Linked DNA regions of Homo sapiens: region 1 is linked to region 2. The links come from fine-mapping of genetic effects on gene expression. Tissue or cell type: monocytes. Region 2 holds a variant in brackets; the other region holds the start of a gene. All regions are shown on one strand. Distances are between the middles of the regions.

Region 1 (8,000 bases), 540 kb before region 2:
TATATTTCCAACCTCAGTCCATGGCATAAAACTGGTATTCAATAAATGACATCTATAATTCTTATTATGCTCTCTCTTTTGACTATTTTCCTAAGCTTGAACTAAGCTATGACTTATTTGATATGTATATTATTCATTGAACATATTACTATCTCTTATTCGTAAATGAAAATACAGATGAACTATTTTATTTCTTTGCAAACAGCAACAGCAGATATTCTAACTATAAATTATATTTTATTCAATACTAACTACTCTTCTCAGGGCAGCTGGCATGCTTTAAAGAAAAACAGTCCTGTTTTCCCTTTTTTAGGCCTCTATGACATAAATAGGATTTTAAACAAACATTTATATAAGCAAAACTTTTGGATCACTTATTACATGAGGTTTAACAAACTCCCTGCAGCAGAGTTTTCCAAAGATGGGGAAGAAAAGAGTATTCCAGAAGGCCACTGGCCTAAACGCAAAAGAATACCCAGGTATCTTCTGAATATTTTCCAGGGAACCTAAGATAGGTGTATGCTCCAAGAATGTAAGTTTCTAAAAATGCTGAAAGACTGATGAGCCACAGGCAGGGAAGTAAGAAACAGAGCTCATATGCTGCTGCTTCTTGTTCTTCCCCATCTTGCGCATTAAACTCTCATTATTTGGTTTCTCTGGTTTTCGTGTGGTGGACAGAACATGGCTCAGAAAATCGGGGCTCTAGTCCTGGCATGACTCCTAACTGACCTGGCCATGTTAGCTCCCTGAACCACATTTTTCTTCAAATAAAACATACAACTGGATGCTCTCCAGAAGCTTCTAGAGTTAGAGAATTCCACAGCTTTGATTTCTTTGCCACACTAGTTTATCTTCCATTGATATCCCTCCTCCACTAGTTACTGCCAGATCAATACCTTTAACCCATCCTCAGCTCAAATCATAACCTACCAGTGGTATTGCGACATCCTCATAAGGCAGCTTGTCTTCTCGCCAAGCATCATCAATCAAATCCAAGATCCTTCCATCTCTCTGAACCTCACTGTCCATTTTCCTGCAGCTTTGATCTTGTCAAATCTGTAAGCCAAAGAGGTTATTTCTTAAACACGAAGACTGAAGAGATGGTATAATCCACTATTAGGATTCTCCAGGCTTTTTAGTCTGGGGCCACCTTTTGGGAAAAGGTTCATTTTCTCATATGGGCCGGGTGACTACTTTGATCACAGTTCCTCTCTCCAACCCCAACTGATACATATTTTATAGTGTATACTGGACAGGCATAGCCCAGCTGACAGACCAGTGTCATAGAGTGTGACAGGAGAGCAACACGTTAAACGAGGCCCTCAAATATTAATATGTTGCATCTCAATGTAGCTCTTCTCTTCTAACTTGAACATTCACCTTTTCCTGTTTGTGATGCCTTTGATGAGTCCCTGATTCATAATGGCCAGCTAAGTTTCCTTTCTAGCCCCTGGCTCAAACCTCAGCATTCTTAGGCACAGGAGTCACACGAACATACTGTAAAGGAAACGGCTTCCTTCCCTAAAATAGTACCCAGGCTGAGATCTGAATAAAGCACTTCTAGGTGAACACCAGTGGTAGAACCTCATACTGCTAAAGTTTCTCCAGTTTCTGCTTCCCTTTGGGGTAGCTCCTTCCTCGGAGGTTCCTTCCTCTAATTCTTAACGCTACACTCCCTTCAATTTCTGGCCCAAATGGTCACGATGCTTATTTAGCTCCTTGACCATGGCTGATTCCCCATTTTTCTCTGAAACTGCTATAATCTAATCCAAAAGGCTGGCTAGCTTGTAGGATACTTCTGGATTTCCCTGTTTCCAAGGTTGGGCCCTGACTCATCATAGGCATCATCCTATGGGTGCTCCCTGCTACCAAGTGACAATCCAAAAAGCCCGGAAGCCACTGGCATCAAAGGTACTCTCAGTTTCTGAGACTATGGAGACTCACACAATAAGCAATTTTGGGGTGGTGGAGCGGGGTGGAACCCACCATCTGGAGGTGCTTTTTTCAGAGCTCAGCCTGGGTGATATTTTAAGGAAGGAAGCCATTTCCTTTACAAGCTCAACTTCAGACATCGTCTTGCCTTGAGGATTTGTGTCAGGTCTGTAGTTGGTCCCTTCGCATAGTCCAGTTTAGTGTTATCTCAGTATGTTCATGAGCTCCTGTGCCTAAGAACGCTGAGGTTTGGGCCAAGGCAGGTGGAAGTTTTTGTAAAAATGGCTCACAGGGCCGGGCGCGGTGGCTCGCGCCTGTAATCCAGCACTTTGGGAGACCGAGGTGGGCGGATCACGAGGTCAGGAGATCAACACCATCCTGGCTAACAGGGTGAAACCTCGTCTCTACTAAAAATACAAAAAATTAGCCGAGCATGGTGGCAGGCGCCTGTAGTCCCAGCTACTCGGGAGGCTGAGGCAGGAGAATGGCGTGAACCTGGGAGGCGGAGCTTGCAGTGAGCCGAGATAGCGCCACGCGCCACTGCACTCCAGCCTGGGCGACAGAGCAAGATTCCGTCTCGGAAAAAAAAAAACAAAAAAAACCAAAAAGGCTCACAGCTGTCCCCCATAGGATAACTGCAAGATATCCCTAACACCTTGGCAAAAATTATACACAGATTGGTGTGGGAAAGGGTTTACACCCCCATGACAAGGATCTCGGCAAAAGTTAAGCAAAATGCGCCCTGCTACTTCTGTCACCGGTGAGCCAGGTGAGGGCTTAATTAATCCAGTACTCAATAATTAACCGAGTACTACCCAGTGGATAACTCAAAGCAAGACGAAGTTTTGGTTATACTTTTGAAGTCCCTGTCTTACAAGTGCTCCCCACTTTCCTGCTGCTACTCCTTTGTCCTTGCTGCTCTGTCTCCTGGGATACCCTTCTCACTTTCCTCAGCTGATCCAAACCTGACTTTCGGAGGCCCACGTAGATTTTCCACCTTTGTAAAGTTTTCTCAAATCACTCGAGCTTCAGTAGGCCTTCTATCCTTGAACTCTTGCTTCTTGTCCTAACTTAATCTACTAAACAAGCTAGGTCAGCTTTGTGGTCAATTGCTCAGGTATTATTGCCTCCAACTGTTACGTGTACATTTTGTACCCATGATTCCTTAGTAGATCTTTCCACATTTGGTCTCAATCTTTTTCACCTGTCCCTTCTCCAAACACCTCCAACCCTGTCACATTTTCCAGCCTTGACAGTTAAAACCCCCTTTTCCACATCACTAATGCCACTCTTCCTTTCAAGATAAACGCAGGCGTCAGCTCTTGAAGGTCAACATCCCATTTCCGGGATTAGGCGCGAAGGTGCCTTCCCTCATAAGGGGCTGGAAGGATGGGAAGCATCAAGATAATCAATGCCCAGGGCACACTGATTATCTTGTGTATTAAAGCCACCGTCCCAAGTACTCGTCACCCAGTACGACCACTGTTTCCTGAACAAACTTTTCTTACTCACGTGACAGTCCCGATGCCTGCAATGCTCTTTGTTTCTTCCTTTTTATTCCAGTGAACCCACAGTCAGTCTAAAAATCTTAGGTCCCAGGTCGCTTCCTATAGGAGGCCGCCTCCAAACCCCAGGCTGAGTGCGGTCCCGGTACCCACCCCTCCAGGGGTCTCACAGTTCCCTAAGCACAGAGCATGGCACCAACTGGGGAGTCTGTCAAACAGCCCAGATGAATGTCTTTCCAAACACGCGGTGCCTGCGTTTCCAGGGACAGGGACACGTCTTATCAATTTCTATATATTACAGCTTTGTAAACATAATATTTATAAAATCAAAGCGGGAAAGCCTTGTTCCTTGCTAGAAATGAGCCTCGCAGGCCACCACCATCCGCACCGTACGACAGGCCGTCCCTCAGCTGCGGCTTCCTGCCTCAGGCAGGATGTACCAAACGTGGAAGCGGAGACGGGGAGGTCTGGGGGTGCCACGCAAGTCCCTTTCCTCCCGACACGAGTGCAGTAAAGAAAAACGGTTATGAGCGTAAAGTGACAGCCTCGGCCGATGGGAATAGGGGGAAGTCCGACACTGAGCAACGAACGCATTCCCGCGCCTCCAAAACCTAGGCCGGGGGCGCTGGAAACCCTTACCGGCACCCGGCCACCGCGGCAGACGCTTGCTCCTGCCACGCCCCCCCCCCCTCCCCCGCATCACGTGTCTGCACTCGCTTTCCTCGGATTCCCGGATGTGGGTGAGTTCATTTGCTCGCGTGCAGGGGAAGTCTGGAGAAGGCATTGTTTCAATTATTAAAAGTGTGGGGGCAGTGGGCGGAACAAACGCGCCGACTACAGAGGCTGGACGTAAGCTTAGCGGTGGCGCGCGTGCGCAGCGCCGGCCCGAGGTAACGGCGGGAAGGCTCAGGGGCGTGCTTGCGGCAACCCTGTAACCGCCGGTGCGCAAGTTGGAGGGGCAAGGGGCTGCCGTGTCCTGGTCTGGAGGCGGCCCAGGCTGCCTTGGTGATTCTGGCTTCGCGGCCTCATGGCTTGCGGCCGGTTTGCGCAACGGCCTGCGAACCACCAGGCGCGTCCCCGCCGGCTTGGGTCCGCCCCGAAGCCCAGTCCCTCGGCCTGGCCCGCTATGCCCTGCACACTGGCGGAGTCTGGCGTGGCGCAGCCCGGCGTGGGGTTCGGCCCCGCCAGGTGGTCAGCCCTTCCTCGGAGTCCAGGTGGCTGGGGGCGCTTCGGAGAGTGGCCAGGTGGGCGAGCGAGCTGCGCCCAGTACTCACCTTCCCCGGCGGACCCACCTTCCTTTTCAGCGGAGAGACCCCAGTGCGGCCTCCCTGCCAGGGCTGCTGTCTAGCTAGCGCTGTTGGGACTACTTCATTCACGGCACAAGGGGACCCGCTCATTTAGTGTGGCATGTTAAGGTTGGCAGCTTTTAAAATAGTGAGTTGGTTTAAACGGTTATGTTAGTACAAGAGGTACGGAAATGTGGCATAAATCGTGGACTGAAATTGGAGAACCCTGAACTAACGGCTCCATGCACACAAATGAGGGATAGAAAGAAATAAGGACGGTTTCTTAGGAACACTTTAATCATGGAGATACTTGAAGACAGTACATTTAGGCTTATAATGTGGTTTTTCTTACGTCCCTTACGACATCAGGAGAGTAAAGATGAGTATGATGTCAGAGACAGGTCGTCTTTTACAGTTTCAGCACCGTACGCTGATATGCACAGAGTAGTTTTCCCTGAGCCTTATGTCTGGTTAAACTTATTAAAAGAATTTATTATTTTAATAAAGCAGTATTGTAGGGTAGATGCCCTGTATTTATACAGTTCCTCAAGTGCTTGCATTTATTTTTTAGATACGAGGAAATCATAAGGATCGTTGATTAGATTTCTGTTAGCTGTAGCTTAATGATAAAGTGTATATATTTTCTTATTTGGCATGCAGTACCATTTTTAGATTGATTTTTATTTTGAGTTTGCTTTTTGACTGTGGCATTATCAGTGATCAGGGTAGTAAAAAGCTCTGAAACTAAATTAGAGTAGAGATTTATAAACAGGCACACTGCCTTTTAAAATGTATGTAGATGCAAATCTAAAAGTTGTTTGTAAAAATTGTGTATGTTGATTGTACTGATGCCATTTCCTCTCGTTAAAATGGTGGAAGACCTTTGCTTAGTCCTTTCTGTTCTAATTTATGTTGTGCTGGCAGATGGTGACAGCATCAGTAGTCCACTCTGTCATTGCTTCCTGCTTTCAAAAAATGTCAACTTGACTTGAAATTCAGCTAAAGCCAACATTGACAGAAGGTTTCAGGAACTGAATCTCCGATCTTTATGTTATTTTAGTCCGCCTCCCCGCCCCCATCAGGAGCTAGGTTTTTCAGTTTTACAGAGCCACAGTACTGTCATTACACATACACAAATTAATAAAAATTCTCTAATGTCAATATCCAGTCAGATAACGATTTCTTCAACTGTCTCTTAAATGTCTTTTTACAATTAGCTTGTTTGAACCAAAATCCCACAGGGATCTGCCTATTGTGTTTGGGTGATGCACATTTGACATCTTTTAATCTATATTTGTTCCCTCATAGTTATAGCTATGGGATTAGCCCCTATTTTTCCTTACAGTTCTAAATTTAGCAGATTGCATCGCACAGTATCCTTTAACATGTATCTCTGTTGCCTTTGTGTCCTCTAAACCAGGGGCCCCCAAACCCGGGGCCGCAGAGCAGTACCAGTCCGTGGCCTGTTAGGAACCAGGCTACAGAGCAGGAGGTGAGTGACAGGCTAGTGAGCATTACCTACCACCTGAGCTCTGCCTCCTGTCAGATCAGCCGTGAGGTTAGATTCTCCTAGGGGCACGAACCCTATTGTAAACTGCGCATGCAAGGAATCTAGGTTGCACACTTATAAGAATCTGACTAATGCCTGATGATCTGAGGTGGAATAGTTTCATCCTGAAACCATGCCCCTAACCCTGTCCATGTGTATTATTCATATTACTGAAGAAGTGGTTGGCCGGGCGCGGTGACTCACGCCTGTAATCCCAGCACTTTGGGAGGCCGAGGTGGGCATGAGGTCAGGAGTTTGAGACCAGTGTGGCCAACATAGTGAAACCCCGTCTCTACTGAAAATGCAATAAAATTAGCCGAGTGTGGTGGTGTGCGCCTGTAATCCCAGCTACTCGGGAGGCTGAGGCAGGAGAATCACGTGAATCCGGGAGGCGGAGGTTGCAGTGAGCCGAGATCACACCATTGCTCTCCAGACCAGGCAAGAGTGCAAGACTCGGTCTCAAAAAACAAAAAAAAGTGGTTTGGCCATTCCTCCCCCAAAACATTTCATATGAATTTTAACAAAAAGATATTTACAAAATGTGTTATTTCCGCCCTGTCGGTGTTGAGAAATTGTCTTCCATGAAACAGGTCCCTGGTGCCAAAAAGGTTGGGGACCACTGCTCTAAACCAGTAGTTAGATGTAGAATTGCACTGTCCGGTATTGTAGCCACCAGCCAGCAGTGGCTAGTTAATTAAAGTGAAATAAAATTAAAAATTCAGTTCCTAGGCTGGGCGCGGTGGCTCACGCCTGTAATCCCAGCACTTTGGGAGGCTGAGGTGGGTGGATCACGAGGTCAGGAGTTCGAGACCAGCCTGACCAACATGGTGAAACCCCGTCTCTACTAAAAATGAAAAATTAGCCGGGCGTGGTGGCATGCGCCTGTAATCTCAGCTACTAAGGAAGCTGAGGCAGGAGAAGGAGAATCGCTTGAACCCGGGAGGTGGAGGTTGCAGTGAGCCGAGATCACGCCACTGCACTCCAGCCTGGGTGACGGAGCGAGACTGTCTCAAAAAAAAAAAAAAAAAAAAAATTCAGTTCCTAACTTGCATTAGCCACATTTCAAGTGCTCGGTAGCTACAGATTGCCTGGTGGCTGCTTTTTGAACAGTGCAGTTATAAAATATTTTCATAATTGCAGAAAGTTGTATTGAACAGCACTGCTCTAGAAGCCTGATGAGATTTCACCCTTATATTTGTTTTTGTTTTGTTTTTTGGTGGGATAGTTGGGGGGGTTGGACAGATAATTTCATAGGTAATGCAGTATACTTCCTATTTCATTAATTATCAGGGAAGCAGTGTCTGAGTTGTTTTCTTTTTTTATGATGTTAACATTAAACATTATATTGGGTTTAGGTGTAGTTAGCTCCATCCACCCATAGTGAAATTCCCCAAGACTCTTTCACTTAGTGGTGAAGTCCTTTTGTGGGGTTATATTGCCTGTATCCGTTATTGCATTAGAGGTTGCAACGTGGTGATTATCTAATTCTATTATTTCTTCAATATTTATCAACTGAGAGTCTTTTATGAAGAACTTTCCCTTTCCAGCTGTTTGACTACCCTGAAATACAATTTGTACAGGAAAGGCAAGAAAAATGCTTAATTCTTTGCCTCTATTTTCAGACCACAGTAATGAGTTGGTGGCCTAGCAGCCTCCAAAGGTAACCATGAGGGTTTTTGCCTTTTTGTAAACCTATAATCATGAACTTATAGACTTTATATTTAAACT
Region 2 (8,000 bases):
TTTAAACTCTTTAAAAAATAATTCCTGTTTCTTAGGAGAATTGTTTTGAATATATAGTTTGGTATTTTAGGTGAATATATCACTGGTTAAGATTATAATTTGGGATGAACAATGAAGTAGTTTATTTTGGGCCAAACTGAAAAGGGGCCCCGCTGCAACTTTAAATACATGTAATCAGCTCTTCCAGACACCACCAACACTTGGTTCAGGCCACACGTGGTAATGATGGCTGAGCTGAGCTATCAGCTTACAGTCTCTACCTAGTCAATTCTGAAACCAGGCAGTGATGAAAATCCCCTCTAAATGCAAAGAAGTGTGAGACTCAGTTGAAGCATGGTGTGAAAACAGTTTGGCTGCATACCCTTTGCCCAACTTCATCTCAAGAGACTCGGGAAAAATATAGAAACACCTCCTTTCCATATTGTTTATTTTCATGTCACAAACTGTTGGGTGGAATGAAAACAGGGCTCTAGTGTTGCTCTAGTTGTGAAAATACAACTTTTACTTCTTCTGTTTTAATCCCAGAGAGGGGAAGTTCCAACTAATCTGCTAAAGCCACCTTCTTTAAAACCTTTCAACCACGTGGTTTAGAAACACGGATGGACATCGCCAGAATTTAAAAGTGTGCTAGTTCCCAGCCAGAGCAGAGCACGTGTCTGGGGGCTCCCTTTTCATCTGGTCTCCATCCATCCTACACCGGGGGGTTGTCTAGCACCTTTTTCCTTCCTGTTGTAGTGGGCCCACTTTGGAAATGGCAGCTTTTCATTTCGTAAATTAATTTCTATTTTTATTAAAGTAATGGATTAAACAATTCCATGAGTACCAAAAGGAAAAAATCAGTTTCCTGATCATCTCCCCTACCCCATTCTTTTCCCTAACACTTCCTATCTGTTTCTTAGATATACTCCCATTTTTTGAATTATATGCTTAATGTGCTTTATTGATGTCAATTTAGACATTGTCTTTTGACTTCCCTTTATCAATGCTGAGGATTTGGATCTCTTGCCCCTTTCTATATTTTTCTTCTTCTCTTATTTTGCTAATATCTATTACTATATGTATTATATATCCATGTGGTAATTATATATGATTTTTCATATCTACATATGTATAATACAAAATGTATATTTGTTCACTTTGTTAACATATATTTACAACTTTTTTGTTAAATGTAGCGTGTTTAGATTATTATATCTATACAACCTTCCTTCCTTCCCTCCCTCCCTCCCTCCCCCCTTCCTTCCTTCCTTCCCTCCTTCCTTCCCTCCTTCCTTCTTTCTTTTTTTTTTTTTTTTCAAGAAGGTTACAAAGAATATTTATTTATTTATTTATTTATTATTATACTTTAAGTTTTAGGGTACATGTGCACACTGTGCAGGTTAGTTACATACGTATACATGTGCCATGCTGGTGTGCTGCACCCACTAACTCGTCATCTAGCATTAGGTATATCTCCCAATGCTATCCCTCCCCCCTCCCCCCACCCCACAACAATCCCCAGAGTGTGATGTTCCCCTTCCTGTGTCCATGTGATCTCATTGTTCAGTTCCCACCTATGAGTGAGAATATGCGGTGTTTGGTTTTTTGTTCTTGCGATAGTTTACTGAGAATGATGATTTCCAATTTCATCCATGTCCCTACAAAGGACATGAACTCATCATTTTTTATGGCTGCATAGTATTCCATGGTGTATATGTGCCACAATTTGCTTAATCAAGTCTATCATTGTTGGACATTTGGGTTGGTTCCAAGTCTTTGCTATTGTGAATAATGCCGCAATAAACATACGTGTGCATGTGTCTTTATAGCAGCATGATTTATAGTCCTTTGGGTATATACCCAGTAATGGGATGGCTGGGTCAAATGGTATTTCTAGTTCTAGATCCCTGAGGAATCGCCACACTGACTTCCACAATGGTTGAACTAGTTTACAGTCCCACCAACAGTGTAAAAGTGTTCCTATTTCTCCACATCCTCTCCAGCACCTGTTGTTTCCTGACTTTTTAATGATTGCCATTCTAACTGGTGTGAGATGGTATCTCATTGTGGTTTTGATTTGCATTTCTCTGATGGCCAGTGATGATGAGCATTTTTTCATGTGTTGTTTGGCTGCATAAATGTCTTCTTTTGAGAAGTGTCTGTTCATGTCCTTCACCCACTTTTTGATGGGGTTGTTTGTTTTTTTCTTGTAAATTTGTTTGAGTTCATTGTAGATTCTGGATATTAGCCCTTTGTCAGATGAGTAGGTTGCAAAAATTTTCTCCCATTTTGTAGGTTGCCTGTTCACTGTGATGGTAGTTTCTTTTGCTGTGCAGAAGCTCTTTAGTTTAATTAGATCCCATTTGTCAATTTTGTCTTTTGTTGCCATTGCTTTTGGTGTTTTAGACATGAAGTCCTTGCCCATGCCTATGTCCTGAATGGTAATGCCTAGGTTTTCTTCTAGGGTTTTTATGGTTTTAGGTCTAACGTTTAAGTCTTTAATCCATCTTGAATTGATTTTTGTATATGGTGTAAGGAAGGGATCCAGTTTCAGCTTTCTACATATGGCTAGCCAGTTTTCCCAGCACCATTTATTAAATAGGGAATCCTTTCCCCATTGCTTGTTTTTCTCAGGTTTGTGAAAGATCAGATAGTTGTAGATATGCGGCGTTATTTCTGAGGGCTCTGTTCTGTTCCATTGATCTATATCTCTGTTTTGGTACCAGTACCATGCTGTTTTGGTTACTGTAGCCTTGTAGTATAGTTTGAAGTCAGGTAGTGTGATGCCTCCAGCTTTGTTCTTTTGGCGTAGGATTGACTTGGCAATGCGGGCTCTTTTTTGGTTCCATATGAACTTTAAAGTAGTTTTTTCCAATTCTGTGAAGAAAGGCATTGGTAGCTTGATGGGGATGGCATTGAATCTGTAAATTACCTTGGGCAGTATGGCCATTTTCACGGTATTGATTCTTCCTACCCATGAGCATGGAATGTTCTTCCATTTGTTTGTATCCTCTTTTATTTCCTTGAGCAGTGGTTTGTAGTTCTCCTTGAAGAGGTCCTTCACATCCCTTGTAAGTTGGATTCCTAGGTATTTTATTCTCTTTGAAGCAATTGTGAATGGGAGTTCACTCATGATTTGGCTCTCTGTTTGTCTGTTGTTGGTGTATAGGAATGCTTGTGATTTTTGCACATTGATTTTGTATCCTGAGACTTTGCTGAAGTTGCTTATCAGCTTAAGGAGATTTTGGGCTGAGACAATGGGGTTTTCTACATATACAATCATGTCATCTGCAAACAGGGACAATTTGACTTCCTCTTTTCCTAATTGAATACCCTTTATTTCCTTCTCCTGCCTAATTGCCCTGGCCAGGACTTCCAGCACTATGTTGAATAGGAGTGGTGAGAGAGGGCATCCCTGTCTTGTGCCAGTTTTCAAAGGGAATGCTTCCAGTTTTTGCCCATTCAGTATGATATTGGCTGTGGGTTTGTCATAGATAGCTCTTATTATTTTGAAATACGTCCCATCAATACCTAATTTATTGAGAGTTTTTAGCATGAAGGGTTGTTGAATTTTGTCAAAGGCCTTTTCTGCATCTATTGAGATAATCATGTGGTTTTTGTCTTTGGCTCTGTTTATATGCTGGATTACATTTATTGATTTGCGTATATTGAACCAGCCTTGCATCCCAGGGATGAAGCCCACTTGATCATGGTGCATAAGCTTTTTGATGTGCTGCTGGATTCGTTTTGCCAGTATTTTATTGAGGATTTTTGCATCAATGTTCATCAAGGATATTGGTGATATTGGTCTAAAATTCTCTTTTTTGGTTGTGTCTCTGCCCGGCTTTGGTATCAGAATGATGCTGGCCTCATAAAATGAGTTAGGGAGGATTCCCTCTTTTTCTATTGATTGGAATAGTTTCAGAAGGAATGGTACCAGTTCCTCCTTGTACCTCTGGTAGAATTCGGCTGTGAATCCATCTGGTCCTGGACTCTTTTTGCTTGGTAAGGTATTGATTATTGCCACAACTTCAGATCCTGTTATTGGTCTATTCAGAGATTCAACTTCTTCCTGGTTTAGTCTTGGGAGAGTGTATGTGTCAAGGAATTTATCCATTTCTTCTAGATTTTCTAGTTTATTTGCGTAGAGGTGTTTGTAGTATTCTCTGATGGTAGTTTGTATTTCTGTGGGATC[G/A]GTGGTGATATCCCCTTTATCATTTTTTATTGTGTCTATTTGATTCTTCTCTCTTTTTTTCTTTATTAGTCTTGCTAGCGGTCTATCAATTTTGTTGATCCTTTCAAAAAACCAGCTCCTGGATTCACTAATTTTTTGAAGGGTTTTTTGTGTCTCTATTTCCTTCAGTTCTGCTCTGATTTTAGTTATTTCTTGCCTTCTACTAGCTTTTGAATGTGTTTGCTCTTGCTTTTCTAGTTCTTTTAATTGTGATGTTAGGGTGTCAATTTTTGATCTCTCCTGCTTTCTCTTGTAGGCATTTAGTGCTATAAATTTCCCTCTACACACTGCTTTGAATGTGTCCCAGAGATTCTGGTATGTTGTGTCTTTGTTCTCGTTGGTTTCAAAGAACATCTTTATTTCTGCCTTCATTTCGTTACGTACCCAGTAGTCATTCAGGAGCAGGTTGTTCAGTTTCCATGTAGGTGAGCGGTTTTGAGTGAGATTCTTAATCCTGAGTTCTAGTTTGATTGCACTGTGGTCTGAGAGATAGTTTGTTATAATTTCTGTTCTTTTACCTTTGCTGAGGAGAGCTTTACTTCCAAGTATGTGGTCAATTTTGGAATAGGTGTGGTGTGGTGCTGAAAAAAATGTATATTCTGTTGATTTGGGGTGGAGAGTTCTGTAGATGTCTATTAGGTCTGCTTGGTGCAGAGCTGAGTTCAATTCCTGGGTATCCTTGTTGACTTTCTGTCTCGTTGATCTGTCTAATGTTGACAGTGGGGTGTTAAAGTCTCCCATTATTAATGTGTGGGAGTCTAAGTCTCTTTGTAGGTCACTCAGGACTTGCTTTATGAATCTGGGTGCTCCTGTATTGGGTGCATATATATTTAGGATAGTTAGCTCTTTTTGTTGAATTGATCCCTTTACCATTATGTAATGGCCTTCTTTGTCTCTTTTGATCTTTGTTGGTTTAAAGTCTGTTTTATCAGAGACTAGGATTGCAACCCCTGCCTTTTTTTGTTTTCCCTTTGCTTGGTAGATCTTCCTCCATCCTTTTATTTTGAGCCTATGTGTGTCTCTGCACGTGAGATGGGTTTCTTGAATACAGCACACTGATGGGTCTTGACTCTTGCCAATTTGCCAGTCTGTGTCTTTTAATTGGAGCATTTAGTCCATTTACATTTAAAGTTAATAGTGTTATGTGTGAATTTGATCCTGTCATTATGATGTTAGCTGGTCATTTTGCTCGTTAGTTGATGCAGTTTCTTCCTAGTCTGGATGGTCTTTACATTTTGGCATGATTTTGCAGCAGCTGGTACTGGTTGTTCCTTTCCATGTTTAGCGCTTCCTTCAGAAGCTCTTTTAGGGCAGGCCTGGTGGTTACAAAATCTCTCAGCATTTGCTTGTCTATAAAGTATTTTATTTCTCCTTCACTTATGAAGCTTAGTTTGGCTGGATATGAAATTCTGGGTTGAAAATTCTTTTCTTTAAGAATGTTGAATATTGGCCCCCACTCTCTTCTGGCTTGTAGGGTTTCTGCCGAGAGATCCGCTGTTAGTCTGATGGGCTTCCCTTTGAGGGTAACCCGACCTTTCTCTCTGGCTGCCCTTAACATTTTTTCCTTCATTTCAACTTTGGTGAATCTGACACTTATGTGTCTTGGAGTTGCTCTTCTCGAGGAGTATCTTTGTGGCATTCTCTGTATTTCCTGAATCTGAACGTTGGCCTGCCTTGCGAGATTTGGGAAATTCTCCTGGATAATATCCTGCAGAGTGTTTTCCAACTTGGTTCCATTCTCCCCATCACTTTCAGGTATACCAATCAGAGGTAGATTTTGTCTTTTCACATAGTCCCATATTTCTTGGAGGCTTTGCTCGTTTCTTTTTATTCTTTTTTCTCTAAACTTCCCTTCTCGCTTCATTTCATTCATTTCATCTTCCATTACTGATACCCTTTCTTCCAGTTGATTGCATCGGCTCCTGAGGCTTCTGCATTCTTCACGTAGTTCTCGAGCCTTGGTTTTCAGCTCCATCAGCTCCTTTAAGCACTTCTCTGTATTGGTTATTCTAGTTATACATTCTTCTAAATTTTTTTCAAAGTTTTCAACTTCTTTGCCTTTGGTTTGAATTTCCTCCCATAGCTCAGAGTAATTTGATCGTCTGAAGCCTTCTTCTCTCAGCTCGTCAAAGTCATTCTCCGTCCAGCTTTGTTCTGTTGCTGGTGAGGAGCTGCGTTCCTTTGCAGGAGGAGAGGCGCTCTGCTTTTTAGAGTTTCCATTTTTTCTGTTCTGTTTTTTCCCTATCTTTGTGGTTTTATCTACTTTTGGTCTTTGATGATGGTGATGTACAGATGGGTTTTTGGTGTGGATGTCCTTTCTGTTTGTTAGTTTTCCTTCTAACAGACAGGACCCTCAGCTGCAGGTCTGTTGGAATACCCTGCAGTGTGAGGTGTCAGTATGCCCCTGCTGGAGGGTGCCTCCCAGTTAGGCTGGTCGGGGGTCAGGGGTCAGGGACCCACTTGAGGAGGCAGTCTGCCCGTTCTCAGATCTCCAGCTGCGTCCTGGGAGAACCACTGCTCTCTTCGAAGCTGTCAGACAGGGACATTTAAGTCCGCAGAGGTTACTGCTGTCTTTTTGTTTGTCTGTGCCCTGCCCCCAGAGGTGGAGCCTACAGAGGCAGGCAGGCCTCCTTGAGCTGTGGTGGGCTCCACCCAGTTCAAGCTTCCCTGCTGCTTTGTTTACCTAAGCAAGCCTGGGCAATGGTGGGCGCCCCTCCCCCAGCCTCGCTGCCGCCTTGCAGTTTGATCTCAGACTGCTGTGCTAGCAATCAGCGAGACTCCTTGGAGTAGGACCCTCGGAGCCAGGTGCGGCATGTAATCTCGTGGTGCGCCATTTTTTAAGCCCGTCGGAAAAGCGCAGTATTCGGGTGGGTGTGACCCTATTCTCCAGGTGCCGTCCATCACCCCTTTCTTTGATTAGGAAAGGGAACTCCCTGACCCCTTGCGCTTCCCGAGTCAGGCAATGTCTCGCCCTGCTTTGGCTCGTGCACGGTGCGCGCACCCACTGACCTGCGCCCACTGTCTGGCACTCCCTAGTGAGATGAACCCCGTACCTCAGATGGAAATGCAGAAATCACCTGTCTTCTGTGTCGTCAGGCTGAGAGCTGTAGACTGGAGCTGTTCCTATTCGGCCCTCTTGGCTCCTCCCTCAAGAAGGTTACAAAGAATCCCTTCTCTCTTTTCTTCCTTCTCTCTCTCTCTTTCTCCCTTTCTCTCTTTCTCTGTTTCTTGATGGGGTCTCACTCTGTAGCCTTGTCTGGAGTGTAGTGGCCTGGTCTCAGCTCACTGCAACTTCTGCCTCCTGGGCTCAAATAATCCTCCTGCCTCAGCATCCAGCGTAGCTGTGACTGGAGGTATACACCACCATGCCTGGCGAATTTTTGTATATTTTGTAGAGGCAGGGTTTCTCCACATTGTCCATGCTGGTCTTGAACTCCTGGGCTCAAGTGATCTGCCTGCCTGGATCTCCCAAATTGCCGGGGTTATAGGCATGAGCCACTGCATCCAGCTGCAACTATTTTTCAATGCTTAGCCAAGTAGAGTTACATTGTTATTTTCTTTTTCTTGTACTTTTTTCCACAAAGCCAATCAAAATTCTATAATAATAACAAATATTATTTTCCAAATGCTCAGATAGTTCAGATGATCTCCCAACTCCTTCCTCAAGTCCTCTCTTCAAAAGTATGCTTGAAAGGTAAATGTTTTGTATCCTCACTTCTCTGAAAATACAATTATCCTACCCTTATATTTCGTTGATTGGCTGGGTATGATGTCTAAGTTAAAAATC

Evidence for each region. PIP is the estimated chance that this variant, and not a neighbour inherited with it, causes the effect.
Region 1: ANAPC13 starts here. The variant in region 2 is fine-mapped to the expression of ANAPC13 in monocytes (Quach 2016, PIP 0.95).

Annotation. Positions count from the first base shown.
Region 1 is chr3:134,481,876-134,489,875 of GRCh38, forward strand. It overlaps ANAPC13 (anaphase promoting complex subunit 13), which reads right to left and starts at 4,110. Exons shown (of 3, transcript NM_015391.4): 1 at 4,077-4,110; 2 at 931-1,056. The coding sequence starts at 1,029. CEP63 (centrosomal protein 63) reads left to right here and starts at 4,182. Exons shown (of 15, transcript NM_001353108.3): 1 at 4,182-4,327. RefSeq lists enhancers at 3,765-3,884, 3,915-4,014, 4,095-4,204, 4,296-5,114.
Region 2 is chr3:135,023,887-135,031,886 of GRCh38, forward strand. All of the region lies in intron 3 of EPHB1 (EPH receptor B1), which reads left to right. Among named protein-coding and RNA genes, the nearest start is that of EPHB1, 230 kb to the left of the region's middle. The variant G/A (reference allele first, on the strand shown) is at 4,175.